Homo sapiens: one gene and its partners. The protein of the gene in region 2 purifies or fractionates together with the protein of the main gene of each other region. This does not show direct contact. Each region holds a gene or a part of one and is shown on either strand. Other genes may lie near its edges.

Region 1 (7,215 bases), on a different chromosome or scaffold from region 2:
TAAAAAGAAAAAACTTTTTTGAGACAATTGGAGAAAATACTAACTTAATATTCGATAATATTTGGTAATTACTGTGATTATTATTATTATTATTTTTGAGACAGAGTCTCGCTCTTGTTGCCCAGGCTGGAGAGCAATGGTGCAATCTCGGCTCACCGCAACCTCTGCCTCCCAGGTTCAAACGATTCTTCCGCCTCAGCCTCCTGAGGAGCTGGGATTACAGGCATAGCCAGCAGCCCGACTAATTTTGTATTTTTAGTAGAGACAGGGTTTCTCCATGTTGGTCAGGCTGGTCACAAACTCCCAACCTCAGGTGATCTGCCTGCCTCAGCCTCCCAAAGTGTTGGGATTATAGGCATGAGCCACTGCGCCTGGCCTGTGATTATTAATATAATGGTACTGTAATTGTTAAAACAAAGAAACAAAATAAGAACTTGTATTTGCTAGAGACATATATTAAGAATTATGAATGAAATGATATAATGTCTGGAATTGTCACAAAATATTACAGTTGAGAGATATAAATGAAATAAAATTGGCTATGTGTTAAAAACTGCTGACTGGGTGTGGTGGCTCACACCTGTAATCCCAGCACTTTGGGAGGCCGAGGCAGGTGGATCACTTGAGGCTAGGAGTTCGAGACCAGCCTGGCCAACATGGCGAAATCCCGTCTCTACTAAAAATACAAAAATTAGCTGGGCGTGGTGGCACATGCCTGTAGTCCTAGCTACCTGGGTGGTTGAGGCATGAAAATTGCTTAAACCAGGAAGGCAGAGGCTGCAATGAGCCAAGATAACCCCACTACACTCTATCTTGGGTGATAGAGCAAGACCCTGTCTCAAAAAAAAAAAAAAAAAAAATTGTTGACGGTCTTTCCTGTAGGAGATACCTTACAAAGAAAAAAAAAAAATCAGTGAAGCTTGGTAATGGGGGTTTATTATACTTATTCCAACTTCTGAATATTGCTTAAATTATCCATAATAAAGCATTTAAAAGATACATATTTACAATTGCTTGCACATGCATAGAATAGCTCTTGATGGCTACATAAGAAATGTGGCTGGGCTTGGTGGCTCACTCCTGTAATCCCAGCACTTTGGGAGGCCGAGGCAGGCAGATCACTTGAGGTCAGGAGTGCAAGACCAGCCTGGCCAACATGGTGAAATCCTGTCTCTACTAAAAATACAAAAATTAGCCAGGTGTGGTGGCGCACGCCTGTAATCCCAAATACTCGGGAGGGTGAGGCAGGAGAATTACTTGAGCCCAGGAGGCGGAGGTTGCAGTGAGCTGAGATTGAGCCACTGCACTCCAGCCTGGGTGACAGAGTGAGACTCCATCTCAAAAAAAAGAAAAAAAAAAGTATAATTCTGTTTCCCTCTAAGGAGAACTAGATGGAAGAGATACGGGTAAAAGGCAGGCTCCTTTTTTTTTCCCCCAGACTCTTCTTTTTAAAAGTAGGTTCTAGACCAAAAGGGTAACAGCAACAGACCACCACCACTGGTGCTTAGTAGATGCATATTAAAAAGCATCATCTTTTTTTGAGAGAAATTAATGTAAGCCCTGTTGATCGATGGAATTTAGTTCAGAGTCTCAATCCCACATGGAGTTAGAATAAAACTGAAAACACACTCGAATTTCTCATCCCTAATCCAGCCCCAGTAACATTCACCTTCACTTACAAGTTCTTGCCTCTTAATACAGAGGCAGATTTCATCACATAAAAGTAAAAACCAAAGAAGTATACTCCTTGAGATTGTATTAAGCTTCTAGGCTCAATCCAGTACAACAATGAGCAGGAGCCAGGTATTTACCTCCCACTGGTAGCAAACCAGGTGAAATCAAGAAACCTGACATTTGGGGGAAACAGAAAAACACCTTTTGTGAGCAGAGGTGGTATGACCAGGGCCTGGTAAGCACTCCTGGGAGAGTACTATTTTCATTGATCAGTTTCACTGGTTTCTAATATAATAACTTTTGCAGGTATAAAATCCTGCCTGGTATAAACTCTGGCCTGGTAATAAAATCCTGCCTGGCATAAAAAAGTTGGGTAAATTAAGCATAGGTAGGCTTGCTTGAAGACAGAAATGCATTCATTTGCAGAAGCAATGCATTACAGCCCTTTACTGTGGTTCATGTGTATTCTGAGTACAAGGAAGTAATGAAGGCTGCCACCCACCTTGATTCTTGTCATCTGGCTCAGGGTCCGGTTTCAGTCTTTTCACACTGTTGCCACTCTCTGAGCTGTAACAAAACACATGGTGACTTGAGCCATGTCCAATCTTGTGGATCAAAGCTTAGGGAATCAGGAGCTCCAATAACTATTTATATGGGTCTTAGGCAGTCTCAAGAGGCTGGGATGATAAAAATGAATGAAAAGTATTCATTTCAGATTCTTAATCTCCTTCCAATTGCATCATCAGTCATAAAGACAATTTAAACTCCTGACAAATCCAGGAAATAAAGCACTGTATCAACCATCACTTCAACTTCAGATTCTTGGCCGTCTTTATCACTCAAATTGGTTAGAACCACAGATGGATTTCAAGAATATTTAGACATGTTCATAAATGACAAACATTTAGTAATTACAGATTGAAGAAAACATCTTTAGTGACATGCTAGAGATTCTGAGAGTCACCCACAAGATTTTCACTAAAACAATGTATAAGGAATGTATTTCAATGAAGAAAGAAATGATCCCAGAAGGAAGGGACCCCAGAAGGAAGGGGTGGTGAACAAATAAACTGGCAAATACAAATATAAATCTAAACAAATACTGTATCAAAAAATAATGTCTAGTTTGTGGTGTTCAACAGACCATACTGAAGTCACCTCTAAGACTGGGGACATTACTGTGTGTATGTACTAGTTGGTATTTTCTTGCAGGGAGTACACAGCAGGTTCCATTTAAGACTTATGTGGGAGGCCCGGGTGCGGTGGCTGACGCCTGTAATCCCAGCACGTTGGGAGGCCAAGACGGACGGATCACCTGAGGTCAGGTGTTTGACACCAGCCTGGCCAACATGGTGAAACCCTGTCTCTACAAAAAATACAAAATTAGCCAGGCAAGGTGGTGCATGCCTGTAATCCCAGCTACTTGGGAGGCTGAGGCATGAGAATCGCTTGAACCCGGGAGGCACAGGTGTGCCAAGATTGCGCCATTGCACTCCAGCCTGGGCGACAAGAGTGAAACTCCAGCTCAAAAAAAAAAAAAGAAAAAGAAAAAGAAAAGAAAAAGAAAAGAGAATCAGAGTATACAAAACCACATGCAATTAAGTTGGAAATCAATGACAAAAGAGAAACATATTTTGCAGCCTCTAAGACACTGTTATATATATATATATATATCATCATAAGGTGTTAAAACGTGTGTGGCGAGGGGGAAGGCTTATCTTTCCCCTCACTGAAATATGGTTGTTACCTCAATATGGAGATTTAAAAAATACATTTCTAAATAATTCCTGAGTCAAAGAAGAAATCATAATGGATATTTTAAAATACTTAGAAGGAAATATAAAACTCATATACAATGAAAGTTAAGGAAAATTTATAGCTTCAGATGCTCATAACTAAAAAGACTGCACATTCATGAACTAGGTATCTGACAGTTTTTTCTAACAATAAATAAAAGAATAAACTAGAAGAGAGTAAAGAATATTCCTTTGAAGAAGGTAAGAAATTGCTGCTTGTTTTGGTCTTATGCTTCATGACATATACATGCCAATGGCTTCCAGACCTTCACCAGGCAGCAGAATCACTCATGGAACTTTGAAAACTACGACTCCCAGACTTCACTTCAAACTTACTGAACCAGAATTAGTGCAAGGCCTGCGAATATAAATTATTAACAAACTCCCAGGTGATTCCAATAAACTCAGGGTCGGACAGATTAGGAACTCCTGCCCCAGGAGACTACCTTACTACACAAAGAAACATTAAATGATGTTGTTTCAAAACCCAAAAGGGGTTATATGCAGGTCACCAAATACGCTACTACAGAGCCTTTTCTAAAGGTGATCTAAGAACTAAGGGAAACAGTTACAACACCCATTCTGCGACCACCAAGAGCAGTCTCAAGGGATAACAAATTGATCACCTGGAGAGCCCTCCCTTGGCATATTCCAGTAAAACTGACCCAGGTCCAAATCCTGCGAGTCCCTAGTCTTGCAGGAAAGCTTATGTGAGAACTTGAAAGGAATAATTCATGGTTTGGGTAGCGAGCCCTTCTCAGGATAACTCCTCCCCTCTGTTGCTATACCAGCATGACATTTTTACATGTAGGCAGTGTTCCTAAGAACATCTGCAGCAGATGGGTGGTGTGCCAAACCACAAGACTGCATCAATACACTCCCTTCAAAACATATGGCTGGTTGCCAATATATCATATTGATTTTCCTAATAGACTGCACTTAAACTTATCATTTCGCCCACAGTCTGTTGGGTCAAATCTAAATGACCAGATTCAATCACTCTGATGACATTTCAGGATTTGGAAAGGGAGGAGCAAACATAGCAAAGAACTTATCATAGCCTTGAGACAGTGCTATCACTTCCACATCAATCCAAACCTAGCCACAGCCAGGTCTGTAACCCTGCCAGGGCTGCCATGTTCTTTCAGGACAGGATGCCTTTGCAGCAGCTATTCCCTCTGCTTAGACTGTTCTCTCCCTTGTTGCTTGTCAAAGCCCTAGTTGTCCTACCTAATCAGCATCTTTCCAATGGTTTCCCCCAACCTCCCCAACATGAAGATGCACACAACACCCTCCCAGCAGCATTGTATGCTCCTCCTCCTTGCTCTCAGTACACCCTACACAGATCCTTTCACAAGACTCACTACCTCATTTTTCTAGACAGAAGCCCAAATAATGAACTCTAGCTCTCTGTTTCTCTATGATCTTGCACAAAGAAGGGTCTCAACCTCTCAAACTCTTGGTCTTCTCATCTACAAAACAGGGATTATAATTGTACTTCATAGGGTTGTTGAAGAATACATGGGATTATGCACAGGAAGCACTTAACACAATGCCTGGTGTGGCAGATCCCCACTGAAGAGTAGCTATTATTTATATTTGTTGAATAAGTGATCAGAGAGACGAGGGTCAAAGCCTATAGAAGGCCTCAAATCTGGAAAGGGAGAGATAGGTGAGCACACCAAGGGAACTTCACCAGGACTCACGCGAGGCAAGCGTTGGCTCTGGCTTCCATTACAAGTGGTGTTTCAGAGTACACGGTCAGAGAGAAATCTGAGTTGTGTGAGTGCTGACTAACCTCTTATGCTTCACAGCTCCTGCCAACAGCTTCGCCTGGGAGAACTTGTTCTTGGTTTCTATAGGCTTCACAGTCAGTTTCTTTTCCACTTCCTTCTTGTTCTCTTGAGAAATTCCAACCTTCTTGAGGTTATTGTGAGTTACCAGTTAAGGGTCAAACTAAGCAAAAGGGAAGACAACAAATATAACCCACTAGCCCTTCGGCTGTGCGATGTAATGTCTGGCCTACTTATTTAAATAAATGCCCCACCCTTCTTTATTCTGCCAGTCAAATCCAGCCAATTCAAAGATAAATGAAAGAGACCATGGAGGAAGACAGCATATAAAGCCCAAAATAATACAGATAAGCAACCTTTTCCTCTGATTCTCAATGAAAATCTGAGCATAGCCACAAAACCCACTATTACCAAGGACATGGCCAATATCATGCTTGATGAGGAAAACAGATCTTAAGGAATATAAAGAAAACAGAAAAAAAAATGTGGCTTCCCTGAAAACATGCTTCCCCCTTCAAGGGTTAAATCAAATTTTGCAGAATGTTGTTCTGACTATCAGTGGCAATTAATCTTAGACATCACGAAGACTAACTCCTGCTCCACTGGTGCAAGGAAACATCAGAATCACCCCAAGGCTCATTAAACATGTCAAGTCCCTCCCTGCCCCAAACCTACTGAATGAGACCTCTAGAGGCCCGGGAGTTTGTTTTAAACACTCTCTGAAGGTGATTTTACACTTGATCTTAGCCAAAAGGCCAAGAAACAATCAAAGGTGATTTTAATGAGAAATCCTGTGCATATATACAAGAACTGAAAAGCTATTTTTAAAAGCATGACCAGTTCGCTTGTAACATCAGTTTTTCGTTCTTGATGCCAATCTCTGGCTCTCAACTTTTTACTCTTTTGAAGTGAAGAAAGGCCCCATATTTTTGTCGGGGAGGTCACTTTCACTTGTTCCCTCCACCAGCCCTCCCTCCTCTCCCTCCACTTCTCCCTCCGTTTTATGCTCTCTCTTGAAACGTCTTAGACAACAGATAAGTATTCTGACACAGTGCAAGTCCTTATTTAAGATGCACTAGTGCCTGGAACAATAGTGACATCTAGTGCCCAGGAAATCTAAGAAGCATGAATTATCAGCCCAAAAAGGTGGGTGGAAGTAGAGGATGTATGGTTAAGGTTATTTATCTACGTGTCTTTGAACAATGGAGAAAATCCTAAGATTTTCCAGAAATCCTAAGATTCTAATTCTAATCACTCTCCAGGCAACTAACTCTGTTCTTATGGGCACAAGTTACCTTAAATATTTGCAGTATGCAATGGAAATTAGATATAATGCTTAGTACTATTATGAGTTTAATGAATTTAATGTTTTTAGGGTCATCATGGAAATAGATAATGTTAATACTCATTTTTATTTAAAAAAAAATAGATTGGCCAGGCACAGTGGCTCATGCCTGTAATCCTAGCACTTTGGGAGGCCGAGGTGGGCAGATCAACTGAGGTCGGGAGTTCAAGACCAGCCTGACCAGCATGGAGAAACCCTGTCTCTACTAAAAAGACAAAAAATTAGCTGGGTGTGGTGGCACATTCCTGTAATCCCAGCTAGTCGGGAGGCTGAGCCAGGAGAATCGCTTGAACCCGGGAGGCAGAGATTGTGGTGAGCTGAGATCGTGCCACCGCACTCCAGCCTGGGTAACAAGAGCGAAACTCTGTCTCAAAAAAAAAAAAAAAAAAAAAAAAAAGATTTCATCTTTCTAGGAGAGAATGCCAAAAAAAAATTAGCATGTTGTGATTTTTTATCTGCAACTCCATCATTAGGAGACAGAAGTTCTCAAAACTCTCAATATTAAATATTAAAAAAAAACAAAAATGGAAAAAAAACACAACAAAAGCATGTATATATTTATACATTATTTATACCACGACATAGACAAAACCCAACATTTAACTTT
Region 2 (6,766 bases):
TCCCAGGAATGTTGTGGGAAATTCATGAGATAGAAAAGTACCAGCGTTCAGGAAGGGTGAGTCCCCACAGCTCCGTGAGGCCAGAGATACTGCCCTTCTGCGGGACTTTGTTACAATCACCCTATGACAATGCACAAATAAATGGTCATTCAATTACAAAAGAGTACAAGGACTTATATTTACTCAGTTCATCCAATATCAATTATTATAATAATCAACAGTGTAAATTGGAAAGTAACTACGTGGAAACCACTTCTCCTTCTTTCCCATCTAAGGTCTCAGAAGTGCTTTCCCAGATGTGATCTCATTAACCTCTATATTGATCTGAGAGGTGTTAACCAAAACTGGCCAGCACAGGGGAAATGACTCACCTAAGGCCTTATAATGGGCCTGCCCCGCCATGTTCTATTGCATTGTTTTTCTGCAAAGCCTCATCTTGCGGGGTTACACTATACATATTTTTCCTCTCTTTTCGTTTTACCAAAGAGAAAAATATATACTTTTTTACTGTTAAGAAACATTTTCTCAAATAAGTACGTATTTCATTCCTTACTGAAATGGTTTTTTCTTATTGATCCATTGAAACCATATTGGCTATGTTCAACATAACTAGAGATATCTTTGGTGTTTTCCTCCCTTAGCTTCATATCTTGTAGAACATCTCGTACAAAAAAAGTAGATTTACAGAAAAACATACATATAAATCACGTATTAATCCCCAAATGTAGTAAATAACATAGCAAAAACTTTATCAAATCCATTTCATGCACAAGCTGGACAGATCTGTTATATACAATCTCTATATGCATCTGCAGTGTTTTATAAATTGGTGCTTTGACATTAAAAAGGAGGTTTACAAAAAGGCCCCTCTTGTACTATCGATGACTGAATTATCTCACTATCATTGCTTCTCAAATTTCCTTGAATTTATACTCATCATTGCCATATCACCATTCTAACAAAGGCGGTTATTTTAAGGAAAAAGTTGCAGCGTGATTATGATATAAGTAACATTCAAAATTTCACGTTATCAAGAGTTGAGCAAAGTACTAATTTCCCCTTTATAAACACACGTTTAAAACAAGAGCTTCATGCACATCCAAATAGAAATTCAAAGTCAAACTGTGTAATGTGTTTTTATTGACAGAAGGCATCACACACATTCCCAAGCAGCATGGTTCCCGTGAGAAACTGAAAACTAATTTCTTGAATCTACAATGCGACTTCCATCTTCCAGGTGTAACCAGAGTTTTTCCTGGAGCGATTCCAGCTTGTTTCCTTTTGGTGCCTTCCTTAAGAAATTTTGCAGCTGTTTCTGGTGCAGTTTTTGGGTGGGCTCTGGGGTGGGCAGACGATCTCCACTTTGCAGAGGCTGCTCTTGTGAGTGGAGCTGGTGGTGAGGGAGTAGGAGAGGCCTCGCATCATCCTGGCATTCAGGCCCTTAGCCATGGAGAAGGACTTGAGGTGGCTTCTTAAGGTACTGGGGAGCGGGAGCTTGTCCACCAGATGCACAGGTGTGCAGGACACGATGGTGCGGCAGCAGAGGTCTTGCAAGCTCAGTACCTTGCTCGGCCTCCCGAGCCAATTCATCCTGTGCCGCAGCAGCACTATCCTGGCCAGCTCCGTGAAAGACTCTATGATGTTGAAATTGCACAGAGGGCTGACCTCAAAGAAGGTCACACCCAGGCGCTCGGCGTAGGCCTGGGCCTGCTCCCTGGGCACCTGCCTCTTGAATGCCAGATGTAGGCGATTCCCCACCAGGATTTTAGGGACACCAGGGGCATGTTCCTCAATCTTCTTAATCCATCGATCCATACCCTCGAAAGACCAGCGGTTTGCAATGTCGTAGACCAGGATCACTCCTTGTGCACCACGAGAGTAGGAGCGGAATATGGTACAAAATCTTCCCTGCCCCGACGTATCCCAGAGCTTCAGCTTCACCCGCTGGCCGTCCAGCAGGATGGTGGTCGTCTTGTAGTCGATCCCCCCGAGATGGCTGTACGGGGACTCAGCTGCACCATCCTGCAGGCTCTCCAGGATCTCACTCTTGCCTACGTCCCTGTCGCCCACCAGCAGGAACTTGAGCAGGAAGTCATAGGCCTGGTCGGGGCTGCCCGGGGCGCTCATGGTGCTGGCCCCGCACTCCCGCCTGAGCCAGGCCCGCGGGGTTGTGCGCAGAGGTGGTGCCGGGCCTGTTCTTCTTGAGAAATTAGCATAGAACATAAAAAATGAGATGGGGAAGTCTGTGAAATAAAGCGAAATGAGGTGGTGGCTTTGATGGATTTCTTTTACAAACCCTAGGAAACTGATTCAGCGATTGTTTTCCTTTTTCTTACCCAGCACAGAGTAGTGACACAGCAGTTAATTCATCATGGAAACCTATACATTTCCCTTAAAACTTTCATGTGATCGTTATGGAACCATGCCTTTTGGATTATGTCAAAGGAATCTCCTTTAAAGGAAGGACGGGTATGGGATAGGAAAGGGACTAAGATGTGTTGAGTACTGTACGTACCCTATGCTGTGTATGACGCTTAAAATATTTTGTTCTTTTGCTTTCAGAACAGTTGTCTTTGGTAGCTATAATTGTTTCCATTTTACAAATGAGAAAAGGCAAACTCAGAAATGTTATGTAATTTTTTAAAACATTGCCATTAATATAGAGATCACAGAAATCACAATCCTGAGCCAGTGCTCTCCTCATATAACGCACTACACACCCTTTCTACTCTGTGGCCATGCCGGGTTTAGGAGTAAGTGTGAACTGTCTGTGCATGTGATCCTTGACAAGCCACGCATGTTTACATGGGCACTAATACTTTTCTTGCTGCAGGGGGACATCTCCCATAAATATAAGAGCCAAGATCTCAGAAGAGATATCTAGGACATGGATTTTGCTAGAGTGTCTCATAAATAATATTCACCCAACAAAGATGTGTTGAAATAATGCATGCATCCATCAGTGAAGGGTTTTAGGTTTAACACATGTACAGCTCCTATAACAAAATAACAAAACTGAAAAAATATGTATATGGTTCACAGGTGAAGAAACGCAAATGGCCAGTAATCACAAGAAAATGCATTCTAGCTCACTAATACATTAAAGAATGCTAATGAAACCATCTAAATATCCTTTTATCACCTATCATCTGACAAAATTTAAATGTAGAAAAAAACCGAAAAAGAATTTTTTTTTAATTTGCAAAAGAAAAAGATGCAAAAGAAAAAGGCTCTGTGTGTGTCTGTGTATGGGGGCAGGATGAGGGACCAAATACATCAAGGAAATGGAAACACACTTATCAGTTATAAATACACTTAAATATTGTAACTACAACAGGTACAAAGATGGTTAAAGAAATGAGAATGCTCATACACATATAAGGGAGTTTAAATTATTGAAATCAAGCCCCAAGGGATAGATGTTTACAAATGTAATGGAGGAAAAAATTTTCACATGTCCAAAATAGCCAGGTAAGTGGTTATTTGAAATAGCATTGCTGAAATCTTTTTAAAAAGGAAAAAATGAGAAACATTCTAAATACTCATCAATACAGAACAAACGTGAATAAAGGATAAGAAAAACATTTCTATTTCTCTGTGGGCTTCAGGGCAAATAGAGAAAAAAAAAACCTTTAGATTAATTCCAGATTTAGCTGACAATAAGGAGATAATAAAGTTCTCTCCCTGATTTACACAAACTCCCTTAAAGACAGCACCCTGATTGGAATAATGATCATAATCATCGGTACCTTGAACAGCCGTTAGGATAAAGGAGATGAAATATAGAGTGCATTTGCCTAAAGTAGTTCAGTGCAGGTTACTTTCCTTCTCTTCAGCTCACCTGTCCCAAGGCCAACACCTAAGCTTCTGCCTGAGCCCACTCACCACTTAAGGGATCAGCCAACTCATACGGTCCCACACCCAGTCTCTTGGCATAAAGTGCAGGATTTCACTTCTGTCTTCCTCATCACCCAGAGGGGTTGTGGAGTGGGGGACCCATGGGGCCACAATAGCAGGGGAGTGGAATCTGACATTTCTCAAGCCCTGGAAGCCCATCTTCTAAAAGGGGGTGCTCAGGGTCCTTTAGGGAGGGTGAGGGATGAAACCTCATTCCAATCCTGCCACTTACCTGGGAAGGTGACTTAGGCTCTGAAAGCCTGAGCTTGATTATCTGTGAGATAGAACTGACTGTATCATCCTTACCGAGCTGTCCCAAGGAGCAAATGAGAAAACCTGTTGAGAGTATACGGCATGAAGTGGGACTTCAATGGCCCTTTAAATGCTGAGACACAGAAGTGGGGGCTGGCTGAGCCTCTGGGCTAAGAAGGCATTGTGAAAAGTCATTTTTCATTGTTTCTACTAATGAGAACACAGACATCCATATAAAGAAAGCAAATCTCTCTCTGATATGCCTTGAGTTCAAAGTTTTAGAGACAGAATGTTCTCTACATTCTTGGATGTCTCATAATCTAATAAAAGCTGTTGAACATCATGCCTCTGAGCAGACCCAAATTCACTTCCCAAGCTAGAAAGAAAAAAATTGATTGATAGATGTAAAACAAGACTGTAAAAACATATGCGCCAGGGCATGAAACACCAGGTAGCACTGACAGGGCTGTAGAAAGGTGACAGAGAGGATAGAGGTCACAGGAGCAGGGTCTGGGCAACTGTGTCCATAGGATCCTAGAGAAGGGAGGACTGAAAGGGAATGGGAGGAGGTCTGGGAAGCTTATGCACGGGCAATGGAGGCTAAATGCCCTGCTGTCTGTGAGGGACCTCTCCACAGCATGCACGGGACAACGTATACTGAGGAGGGAAGAGATAAATCAGTGAATGCCATGTAGATTTGGAGTCCACAGCCAATGGACCAGCTTTAATATACGTATATTTTTCAAACAGAACTGGCATCGTAGTTTGTCACTCTTTGCAAAATGTCCTCCTTTAAAAAAAAAAAAAATGGAGATAGCTGTGATGCCTCCTGATGGCCAGAACCCGGATCACAGCTTTGAGAGTCTCAGACAAGGGGCTCAGGGAAAGGGAGAGGGATGTTGGAGGTGAACTACAAAGATATTAGCCAGAGTTTTCTGGAATTATTCACCTAACGATAGCAATCTCTGTGTATTAGTCATGTTCTGGTATATGTGAAACTGAGATTGGCTCCAGCCCCTGTCTGCATTAAAGGTAAAGCTGCATCTGTGAGTGTGTATTTGGAGTGATACAGCTAGACCTAGACACACACACACATGCAAATACCCTGTCAAATTATTTCCTGTTTTCACCATAAAATAGAATATAATGAATGCTTTCTCAAATTAATAAACATGTGCACAGTACTTTTGACAATCTGTTCAAAAGTATTTTGTCACAGCCATAAAAAAGAACAATATAATGTCCCTTGCAGCAACATAGATGCATCTGGAGGCTATTATCCTAAGTAAATTAACACAGGAACAAAAAACCAAATACCACATGTTTTCACTTATAAGTGGAAACTAAACATTGGGGACTCATGGACGTAAAGATAGCAACAACAAACCCTGGGGCCTACTGGAGGAGTGGGGAGAGGTGGGGCAAGGGTTGAAAAACTATTGGGTACTATGCTCACTACCTGGGTGATGGGATCATTCATATCCCAAACCTTAGCATCACACAATATACCCATGTAACAAACCTGCACATGTACCCCCTGGATCTAAAATAAAAGCTGAAACTTAAAAGAGAAGAACATTCTGCCTCCTATAATGAAGAAACATCTCAGCTAACTTATTTTTTGGAAGACAGCAACATTTTTTCAAAGTTTGGGTACATCATTTTTTAAAATTCACTATGCCTCTTTCTTTCAGGTCCATTTCATTGACTACAGAAAGGCATCAGAATATATATATATTTTTATTTTATTTTATTTTATTTTTTGGACAGTCTTGCTCTGACGCCCAGGCTGGAGTGCAGTGGTACAATCTCAGCTCACTGCAACCTCCGCCTCCCAGGTTCAAGCGATTCTCGTGCCTCAGCGTACTGAGTACCTGGGATTATAGGCATGCGCCACCACACCCGACTAATTATTATATTTTTAGTAGAGATGGGGTTTCACCATGTTGGCCAGGCTGGTCTTGAACTCCTGGCCTCATGAGATCCACCCGCCTCAGCCTCCCAAAGTGCTGGGATTCCAGGCGTGAGCCACCACACCCAGCTAGGCATTAGAATTTAACTTCATTGCCTTGAATATTTTAATTAATGTTTTATATTTAATCTTAAAGAAGGGGAAATTTTTATATCATTGAAGAGACACTTATGTTTACAAGAACTTTTAATAATAAAAGCAGAATTTACTAGTAAAAAAGGGAAAGAAATAGAACATTATCTTCACTTCAGGAGCTTCCTTTATGCCCTTACAAGTCATTATACCTCCAAAAGTAAACTACATTAACTTCTAACACTAGAGATTTGCCTGTTTACGAACTTTTCATATTTTATTTACCTGAAATTATACTTTTTTGTTTCTGCTTTGTTTTGCTTAATATTATCCTTGTGAGATATATCCATGATTTTGCATATGGCAACATTAAAATGAGCATTCTAATTGTGGTAGAGTATTTCATTTTATGAATACTACAAGTTATCTGTTGGATGATATTTGGGTTATGCCCACAGTTTGACTAATGTTATAGTACTACTACATACAGTTTTGTGCCTGTCTTTAGTGGGTATATGTACACGATTCTGTTGAGTATATCAAAGATTGGAATTGCTGGCTCATAGGTATGCA
Region 3 (9,906 bases), on a different chromosome or scaffold from region 2:
CATCCATTGGGCTGGCTCTTCCAGGTGTCAGTCCTGGCCTCAGTTTACTACCAAGTCTTAGGTCGTAATATCCAGACTTTGAGACTTCACAAGCAGTCTCAAAGACTTTACTGTACAGTAAAATGTCAGTACAAGGGACTGGAGGGCCTGCAGAGCACTGCCAGCTAGAGGAGCTGATAAAGTAGGAAGGACGCACATAATGTCTTCATTATGATGTACTCTCATAATCATAATAATACTTGGTATTTTTGTGCCTGGCACTGTCCTGAATGCTTTCCATGAGTTTAAATATTTAATCCTCACAAGAATCAGGAGGAGGAGGAACTGTTATCCCTGTTTCACCAGTAAGGGAATAGAAGTCAGAGAAGCCACTTAGGGTGACTGCCCTGGAGGCACAGCTAGGAAGTGGGCCAGGAATGTCGGGGAACAGTCTCCTTCCCAAAGAAGTGGGGTTGGCAACACCGACCTATTTCACACAAACTGTGATGTTTTTCTCATTTTGAGGCCCGCTGAGCTATGTTAAAACAGCATTTCTCTGGGAAACAGCTCCTCCTTGTTCTTATTTCTGTCATTGACTAGCTTAGTTTTGTTCATCTAGATCTCCTGAGATGTTGGTTTAATCCACGTTGAAAAAAATCTATGTGAGCATTTGGTGGGACTGGTGCAAGAAGCACACCCTGGGTTATTTTATGCTGGTAACACTGTTTCCTCAAGCTATGCATTTTGATGGATTAGAAATGGATTGTGAGTAAGAAAAAAAAAAGCAGTAGGATTAATAATCAACAGGAAAAACACCTGAAGGTTGGCCTTCCCAGTGAGATACTTGATTCCTTCATTGGCTCTTTGTCGTAGGCAACATGCTGGTTCCTGGGCATAGAGTTGGTGCACAAAATAGATGCTGCCCAGAAAAATAGCATTTGTAATGTGAGTGAATAGCACCATAGAGAGAAGGACAGGGAACCAACCTGGACTGAGGAGCAAGATTAAAAGGATGTTGCTAGCAGATTTTTTTTTTAAATAAAGAGGATATTTTGAATTAGGTATAGTTTATGTGTTTCTATATAAAGTCCATAAGGTACCCTGGCAAGAATGGAACATAAATTTGTCACATGAATTTGCTAAAGACAGACTTACGAAGACTGATAAATATGAGGCTTTGAATAACAAGTTTTGTAGCTAAAAACATCATTTTCTTTTTTCAGACACCTTCAGCAGTAAACAAGATAAAACAACTTCTTAAAGATAAGCCTGAGCATGTAAGTAAAACCAGTTAATTATTCAGTAAAAAACTGAAGCTGCATTTTCAGAATGAATTTATCCCATGATATACAGTATTATTTCATTTAGGGGTTTTTATTTAAAATGTAAAATATACTCAGGATTTTTAAAAAATTCAAATAATACAAAAGGGTATTTAACTAAAAGGAAGTCATTCTTTCAACCTGACTCTTCGTCGTCATTCTTCCTTCCAAGAAGCAATCTCTTTGGTATCCTTCCAGGGATAATGTATACATTTGAAGCGGCTAGACCTGATTTTCTCAGCCTCCTCACAGTTGACACTTTAGGGCAGATTGTAGAATGTTTGACAGCATCTGTGGCCTCTGTCCATTAGATACCAGTAGTACCCCCTCTTTGCCTCAACCAAAGAATCCACATATGTGGAACCCACCGATACGGAGAGGTGACTGTATAGAGTAAAAGTATGGTGAGTACTATTTCACCAGCAGTTCCTGATTCCACAAAGCTTTGGTTGTCACAACCAAAAATGTCTCCCTGAGGGCAACCACTGGCCTAGACTGGGCTTGTTATTCCTGTGTATATCTCTTCCTACCATAAATTTTTTTGTTACACTTTGCTTTTTACCCTTAATAATGGCTTGAAGATCTTTCCATGTCATTATGTAATGATCTGCCTCCCTTTCTTGGCTGCATGTAGAGTATATTCCATTGAACAAGTTTGAGTTCTTTAACCAGTCCCCATATTAAAGGGTCGTTTTCATTCAGTGCTGCCGCAAACACCATTCAGCAACTATTTAGTGTCTGCAGTGTGCCAGGCTCATTGTTCTAGAACTGTAAGCATGGCTTAGTCCACCTACATAGGATCCATTCCTAGATACAGAATTGTTGAGTTAGGGATGTGTGTATCATCTTAATTGTACATTGTTAGTTGCCGATGGAATGCTGTAAATCATTTCAAGTAATGGATTGCAATATTTAATAATTAGACGGTGGGGTGATTTCTGGTTTCTGTTGTTAACCTACTACATTACAATGTAATGGAAGTTCTCAAACCTACCTTTTAAAATTATTAAATTTCAAAGGATATCAGTGTTCTGATTCAATTTGGATAGACCGATGAGTAGACTACAAATTGGCCTAATGAAACAAGAATTCGGCTTTGTAGAATCAGGAACTGCTGGTGAAATAGTACTTATGATACTTTTGCTGTATACAGTCACCTCTCCGTATCTGTGGGTTCCGCATACGTGGATTCAATCAACCATAGGTCAGAAATATTTGGGAAAAAAATAGAAGGTTGCATCTGTATTAAACATGTACAGACTTTCATTCTCTAAACAATACAGTATAACAACTGTTTATGTAGCATTACATTGTTACAGGTATTCAAGTCCTCCAGAAGTTATTTAAAGTACAGGGGAAGATGTATATAGGTTATATACAAATGCAGTGCCATTTGCATAAGGGACTTGAGTATCTGCAGATTTTTGTATACTCAGTTAGTCCTGGAACCAATTTCCCATGCATACTAAGGGATGACTGTATTTAAATGAAAAATCAGCTCAGCTCTAAGACAGAGAACTTAGGTAGATACTGTTTGAAAATTGCATTAATGTAAACATTGATACTTTTAAAGTGCTGTTTGGTCACTTTTTTAAACTTCTTTTGTCTGTATTGACTGCAGTCTTTTGCTTTCTGGTATTTGAGACTGTACACAAGTCTGCACTATAATTCAGATCCCATGTAGAGGTAGGATTGCCAGATGGTGGACTATGAACCCTGGTGAATCCTAACCATAAGGAAACATTCAGAGGATATCTCACAGAACAAGGTAGAGCAAAGACATTTTAAATAAAGTCCCAGGCTGGACGGGGTGGCTCCTGCCTTGTAATCCCAATGCTTTGAGAGGCCGAGGTGGAAGCGTTATTTGAGTCCACGAGTTTGAGACCAGTCTGGGCTACATAGTGAGACCCTGTCCTACAAAAAATAAGAGAAAGTCCATTTTGGTACGAGGAGGCTACTGTCACTTTATTAGTATAATTGTTTAATCTGTACTACTTTAAAACCAAGTTTATATTTTCACTTCTTTTTCAGGTAGGTGTAAAAGTTGGTGTCCGAACCAGGGGCTGTAATGGCCTTTCTTATACTCTAGAATATACAAAGACAAAAGGAGATTCTGATGAAGAAGTTATTCAAGATGGTGAGTTTTTAACAAACATTTTTTGGGCACATTGTTTTGCCTAAAATTATTAGCCTTGCACAGCACAAAGTAAAAAATAAGGATAGTAGCAGGAATTATGTAAATAATGCTCACTGTGTGTGTAGGTGTTGTTTGATGGAATTTCATGTATTAACTGATTTATACACAATGCTGAATGTGGGTGGTACCATATTATCCCTGTTTTTCTGATGAAGAAACTGAGGCACAGAGGGGTTAAATAGTTTAAGGTCATAATAAGTGGCCTAGTAAAATTCTTTCCAGAGACTGCTCTTAGTAACTAATTGATAAATTATTATATAAGCTTGTTTTAACTATGAAAGATCATCGTTGTGTCCAAAAAGTGAACCAGCCTTAAACCTCACAGTGAACCAACAGTTTTTGTGTAAGCAGTAGTTTTATATCTGTGTCAAATAAGTACGAGTTGAGCATTCCAATCCAAAAATCTGAAATCTGAAATGCTCCCAAATTCAAAACTTTAAAAGTGGGTGCTGACATGACACTCAGAGGAAATGCTCATTGGAGCTTTTTGGATTTGGGATGCTCAAGCAGTAAGTATAATGCAGATACAGTCATACATCACTTAACATTGGAGATACATTCTGAGAAATGTGACGTTAGACAAATATCCTGGGGTGTACTTAGACAAACCTAGACGGTCTGAGAAATGTGACATTGGACAAATATCCTGGGGTGTACTTACACAAACCTAGATGGTAGAGCCTACCATATGCCTCAGCTAGATAATATAACCTGTTGCTCCTAGGCTACAAACCTGTACTGCACGTGACTGTGCTGAATACTGTGCACAGTTCTGACACAATGGTAAGTATTTGTGTAAACGTACCTAAACAAAGAAAAAGTATAGTGAAATTTCTTTTATTATTATTATTATTATTATACTTTAAGTTTTAGGGTACATGTGCACAATGTGCAGCTTAGTTACATATGTATACATGTGCCATGCTGGTGTGCTGCACCCATTAACTCATCATTTAGCATTAGGTATATCTCCTAATGCTATCCCTCCCCCCTCCCCCCGCCCCACAACAGTCCCCAGAGTGTGATGTTCCCTTCCTGTGTCCATGTGTTCTCATTGTTCAATTCCCATCTATGAGTGAGAACATGTGGTGTTTGGTTTTTTGTCCTTGCGATAGTTTACTGAGAATGATGATTTCCAATTTCATCCATGTCCCTACAAAGGACATGAACTCATCATTTTTTATGGCTGCATAGTATTCCATGGTGTATATGTGCCACATTTTCTTAATCCAGTCTATCACTGTTGGACATTTGGGTTGGTTCCAAGTCTTTGCTATTGTGAATAGTGCCACAGTAAACATACGTGTGCATGTGTCTTTATAGCAGCATGATTTGTAGTCCTTTGGGTATATACCCAGTAATGGGATGGCTGGGTCAAATGGTATTTCTAGTTCTAGATCCCTGAGGAATCGCCACACTGACTTCCACAATGGTTGAACTAGTTTACAGTCCCACCACCAGTGTAAAAGTGTTCCTATTTCTCCACATCCTCTCCAGCACCTGTTGTTTCCTGACTTTTTAATGATTGCCATTCTAACTGGTGTGAGATGGTATCTCATTGTGGTTTTGATTTGCATTTCTCTGATGGCCAGTGATGACGAGCATTTTTTCATGTGTCTTTTGGCTGCATAAATGTCTTCTTTTGAGAAGTGTCTGTTCATGTCCTTTGCCCACTTTTTGATGGGGTTGTTTGTTTTTTTCTTGTAAATTTGTTTGAGTTCATTGTAGATTCTGGATATTAGCCCTTTGTCAGATGAGTAGGTTGTGAAAATTTTCTCCCATTTTGTAGGTTGCCTGTTCACTCTGATGGTAGTTTCTTTTGCTGTGCAGAAGCTCTTTAGTTTAATTAGATCCCATTTGTCAATTTTGGCTTCTGTTGCCATTGCTTTTGGTGTTTTAGACATGAAGTCCTTTCCCATGCCTATGTCCTGAATGGTAATGCCTAGGTTTTCTTCTAGGGTTTTTATGGTTTTAGGTCTAACGTTTAAGTCTTTAATCCATCTTGAATTAATTTTGGTATAAGGTGTAAGGAAGGGATCCACTTTCAGCTTTCTGCATATGGCTAGCCAGTTTTCCCAGCACCATTTATTAAATAGAGAATCCTTTCCCCATTGCTTGTTTTTGTCAGGTTTGTCAAAGATCAGATAGTTGTAGATATGCGGCGTTATTTCTGAGGGCTCTGTTCTGTTCCATTGATCTATATCTCTGTTTTGGTACCAGTACCATGCTGTTTTGGTTACTGTAGCCTTGTAGTATAGTTTGAAGTCAAGTAGCGTGATGCCTCCAGCTTTGTTCTTTTGGCTTAGGATTGACTTGGCGATGCGGGTTTTTTTTTTGGTTCCATATGAACTTTAAAGTAGTTTTTTCCAATTCTGTGAAGAAAGTCATTGGTAGCTTGATGGGGATGGCATTGAATCTATAAATTACCTTGGGCAGTATGGCCATTTTCACGATATTGATTCTTCCTACCCATGAGCATGGAATGTTCTTCCATTTGTTTGTATCCTTTTTTATTTCATTGAGCAGTGGTTTGTAGTTCTCCTTGAAGAGGTCCTTCACGTCCTTTTTAAGTTGGATTCCTAAGTATTTTATTCTCTTTGAAGCAATTGTGAATGGGAGTTCACTCATGATTTGACTCTCTGTTTGTCTGTTATTGGTGTATAAGAATGCTTGTGATTTTTGTGCATTGATTTTGTATCCTGAGACTTTGCTGAAGTTGCTTATCAGCTTAAGAAAATTTTGTAAAAGATCAAATGTGGTCGGGTGTGTTAACACAAGCCTGTTGTCCCAGCTACTCAGGAGACTGAGGCAGGAGGATTCCTTGAGTGTAGGAGTTCAAGAATGTAGTGCACTGGCCAGGCGTGGTGGCTCACCTGTGTAATCCCAGCACTTTGGGAGGCCGAGGTGGGTGGATCATGAGGTCAGGAGTTCACGACCAGCCTGGCCAACATGGTGAAACCCCATCTCTACTAAAAATACAAAAAATTAACTGGGTGTGGTGGCACACGCCTGTAGTCCCAGCTACTGGGAGGCTGAGGCAGGAGAATCGCTTGAACCCCAGGAGGCGGAGGTTGCAGTGAGCCGAGACCATGCCATTGCACTCCAACCTGGGTGAAAAAGTGAGACTCTGTCTCAAAAAAGAAAAAAAGACATCATAGTGCACTGTGTTCTTACCTGTGAATAGCCACTGCCCTTAAGCCTGGGCAACATAGCGAGACCTCCATCTCTTAAAAAAAAGAAAAAAAAAGGAAGAAGAAGAAGAAAATAAAACATGGTACACCTGTTTGTGGCAGTTACCATGCATGGAACTTGCAGGACTGGAAGTTGTCCGCGTGAGTCAGTGAGTGAGTAGGGAGTGATAAGTGAATGTGAAAGCCTAGGACGTTCCTCCGTAGTACTATAGACCTTATAAACCTTGTACACTTAGTCTTCAATAATAAATTAACCTTAGTTTACTGAAACTTTTTTACTTTGTAAGCTTTGGGGTTTTTTTTTTTTTTTTTGACTCTTTTGTGATAACATTAGCTTTGAAACACATTGTACAAATAACAAAAATTTTTTACGTTCTTATTCTATAAGCTTTTCTCTATTTTTAATTTTTTCTTTATAAACATTTTAATTAAAAACTAAGACAAAAACACACGTATTAACTTAGGCCTCCACAGGGTCAGGTTCATCAATATCCCTGTCTTCCACCACCTCCCCTCATCCCATTGGAAGGCCGTCAGGGGCAGTAACACTCATGGAGTTGTCATCTTCTGTGATAATGATGCCTTCTTCTGGATACCTCCTGAAGAACCTGCCTCAGGCTGTTTCACGGTTAACTTTTTTTTTTATAAGTAGAAGTACACTCTAAAATTTTAAACAATAAAAAGTATAGTAAATACATAAAGCAGTAACATAACCATTTATTATCATTATCAAGTATTATGTAGTGTACATAATTGAACATGCTTAGACTTTTATATGACTGGCAGTATAGGTTTGTTTACACCAGCATCACCACAAACACCTGAGTAATGGGTTGTCTTGTGATATTATGGTGGCTACAGCATTGCTAGGCAATGGGAATTTTCAGCTCCATTATAATCCTTTTTTTTTTTTTTTTTTTAATTTGAGATGGTCTCGCTCTCTCACCCAGGCTGGAGTGCAGTGGTGTGATCTCGGCTTGCTGCAACCTCCACCTCCCTGGTTCAAGCGATCCTCCCACCTCAGCCTCCCAAGTAGCTGGGATTATAGGCGCCCACCACCATGCCTGGTTCATTTTTGTATTTTTAGTGGAGCTGTATTATCAACTCATGTTTTTGAGGAATCCTGTATTTCCAATTTTTATTCAAAGCTATTTATTATAATTTAATTTATAATTAAAATTAATTATATTTGCTGCTGCCCCCTTCTTCCACCCTATAATCTGTTAAAACCTATCTAAAATAAATAATTTATCTTGTCATTGGAAGTATGCACTTAGCTTGCAGTTCTTACCTACATGGGAGAATGAGGCCTAGATTCCTAAGTGTGCTTTCTTATTAAACTAAAGTTATAACTATCAATAAAGACCTTTTAAAAATGTATTATTTTAAAAATTATAACACATTATAAACCTTAAGATTTTCATCTTAAAGAAGAGGTGACTTAATTATATATTGTTTATATTTAGCTAATGGCTCAATTTCTTGTAAGGAAGAAAGTTTTTTTGTTGTTTCGTTGTTTTGTTTGTTTGTTGAGACAGAGTCTTGCTCTCTTACCCAGGCTGGAGTGCAGTGGCACAATCATGGTTCACTGTAGCCTCTGTCTCCCGGGCTCAAGCAGTCCTCCCACCTCAGCCTCCCGAGTAGCTGGGACTACAGGTGCCCACCACTGTGCCCGGCTAATTTTTGTATTTTTAGTGGAGCCAGGGTTTTGCCCTGTTTCCCAGACTAGAAAGCTTTCTTAAATTGATTGTATTTGTTGGCTGGGCACTGTGGCTCACACCTGTAATCCCAGCACTTTGGGAGGCCGAGGTGGGAGGATCACTTGAGCCCAGGAATGCAAGACCAGCTTGGGCCACGTGGTGAAACCCTGACTCTAAAAAAATTAGTTGGTCCTGGTGGTATGTGCCTGTAATCCTGTGGGAGGATCGCTTGAGCCTGGGAGGTGGAGCTTGTGGTGAGCCATGATCATACCACTGCACTCCAGCCGGGGTGACAGAGTGAGACTCTGTCCAAAAAAAAAAAGATTGTATTTACAAAGATGCTGACCTCTACCTGTGTAATTACTAGGGAATAGTACCTGTTTTCCGTCCTGTAACCAGAAAAGACTATTGTTGTACTGATTGATGTTATTAAAATAGCCCCATTGTATCACAGTCCTTTGTACATCTTTAAGCTTGAATCCGTGTATCTAGTGTATTGCAGAATTTTCATAAATTTTTTTTTATTTCATAAAACTCATCGAGAATATACATTTTCTTCATGTTGCAAACTGGAAAAATGAGTGAAGTATAGTGAAAGGTAAATTCTAATTTTGCATAAAATTGTCATGGAATTTACTTGTATAAAATTCTCCCCTAATGTGATTGTGACATAAATTCATGTGTGGGAAAGAAGGGGCAGACAGGAAACTGAATGCTTAATTCCTTAAGGAAATAATTTAAAATGTTCAAGGCTTCTTGTTTGACTTTCATTGATAGTCACTATTTCAAGTTCACTTGTGCTTTGAATCAGCAAGTTCCATAAGGCTGCAGGCTTTCCATGACACATGTTTTCTTTTCTCCAAGGAGTCAGAGTATTCATCGAAAAGAAAGCACAGCTAACACTTTTAGGAACAGAAATGGACTATGTTGAAGACAAATTATCCAGTGAGTTTGTGTTCAATAACCCAAACATCAAAGGGACTTGTGGCTGTGGAGAAAGCTTTAATATTTGAAATCTCAGGACTCTTCTGGCCGTAGGTTCCAGGAAAGCTCGTGGAAGCTTTGGGGCTCACTGCAGAAATCATGTGACTGTCACGTGCTGGAAAATAAAGTGATACATCTTGAAAATGAATCCAGTGTGTTGGATTCCAGAAGAAATGATATTTATATTCTCTATAGGGGACAGAAAATGAGAAGCCATCACTCTTTTTGGATCATTTAGGTCTCTTGTATCCTTTGTTTTAGAACCAGTTTCATTAAAGTTGCCTTCCTGGGCACCTGTTTATCCATTTCCTGAACTGTGTGCACTCCTTAGATCGCTATTGATGGCTTGATCATCCCTCAGCATTTCTCCCAACCAGATCGGTGACTCCTAAAATCTGAGACAGGACATCGTGACTGCTGGTAGTAATATGGTGGTGCATTGTTTTTTCCACCCAAACTTAACATAGCCTTTTTATACATTTTTATGAAAAATTTCATTGTCAGCTGCCTCACTGCATACTCTTTAATAGTAC

Evidence for each region.
Region 1: the proteins of RAB40A (region 2) and PSME3IP1 purify together in Homo sapiens (affinity purification with mass spectrometry; 3 studies listed by BioGRID and IntAct, with this or other methods). This does not show direct contact.
Region 3: the proteins of RAB40A (region 2) and ISCA1 purify together in Homo sapiens (affinity purification with mass spectrometry; 3 studies listed by BioGRID and IntAct, with this or other methods). This does not show direct contact.

The regions. Positions count from the first base shown.
Region 1 is NC_000016.10:57,161,825-57,169,039, forward strand, and holds part of PSME3IP1 (PSME3-interacting protein), read right to left. Parts: intron 5,403-7,215; coding exon 5,269-5,402; intron 2,242-5,268; coding exon 2,177-2,241; intron 1-2,176. UniProt on the Homo sapiens protein: Promotes the association of the proteasome activator complex subunit PSME3 with the 20S proteasome and regulates its activity.
Region 2 is NC_000023.11:103,498,630-103,505,395, forward strand, and holds the end of RAB40A (ras-related protein Rab-40A), read right to left. Parts: intron 4,254-6,766; exon of another isoform or gene 4,130-4,253; intron 2,274-4,129; exon of another isoform or gene 2,198-2,273; 5' UTR 2,128-2,197; coding exon 1,294-2,127; 3' UTR 501-1,293; downstream 1-500.
Region 3 is NC_000009.12:86,265,539-86,275,444, reverse strand, and holds part of ISCA1 (iron-sulfur cluster assembly 1 homolog, mitochondrial precursor), read left to right. Parts: intron 1-1,202; coding exon 1,203-1,256; intron 1,257-3,332; coding exon 3,333-3,438; intron 3,439-9,253; coding exon 9,254-9,402; 3' UTR 9,403-9,906. UniProt on the Homo sapiens protein: Involved in the maturation of mitochondrial 4Fe-4S proteins functioning late in the iron-sulfur cluster assembly pathway. Probably involved in the binding of an intermediate of Fe/S cluster assembly.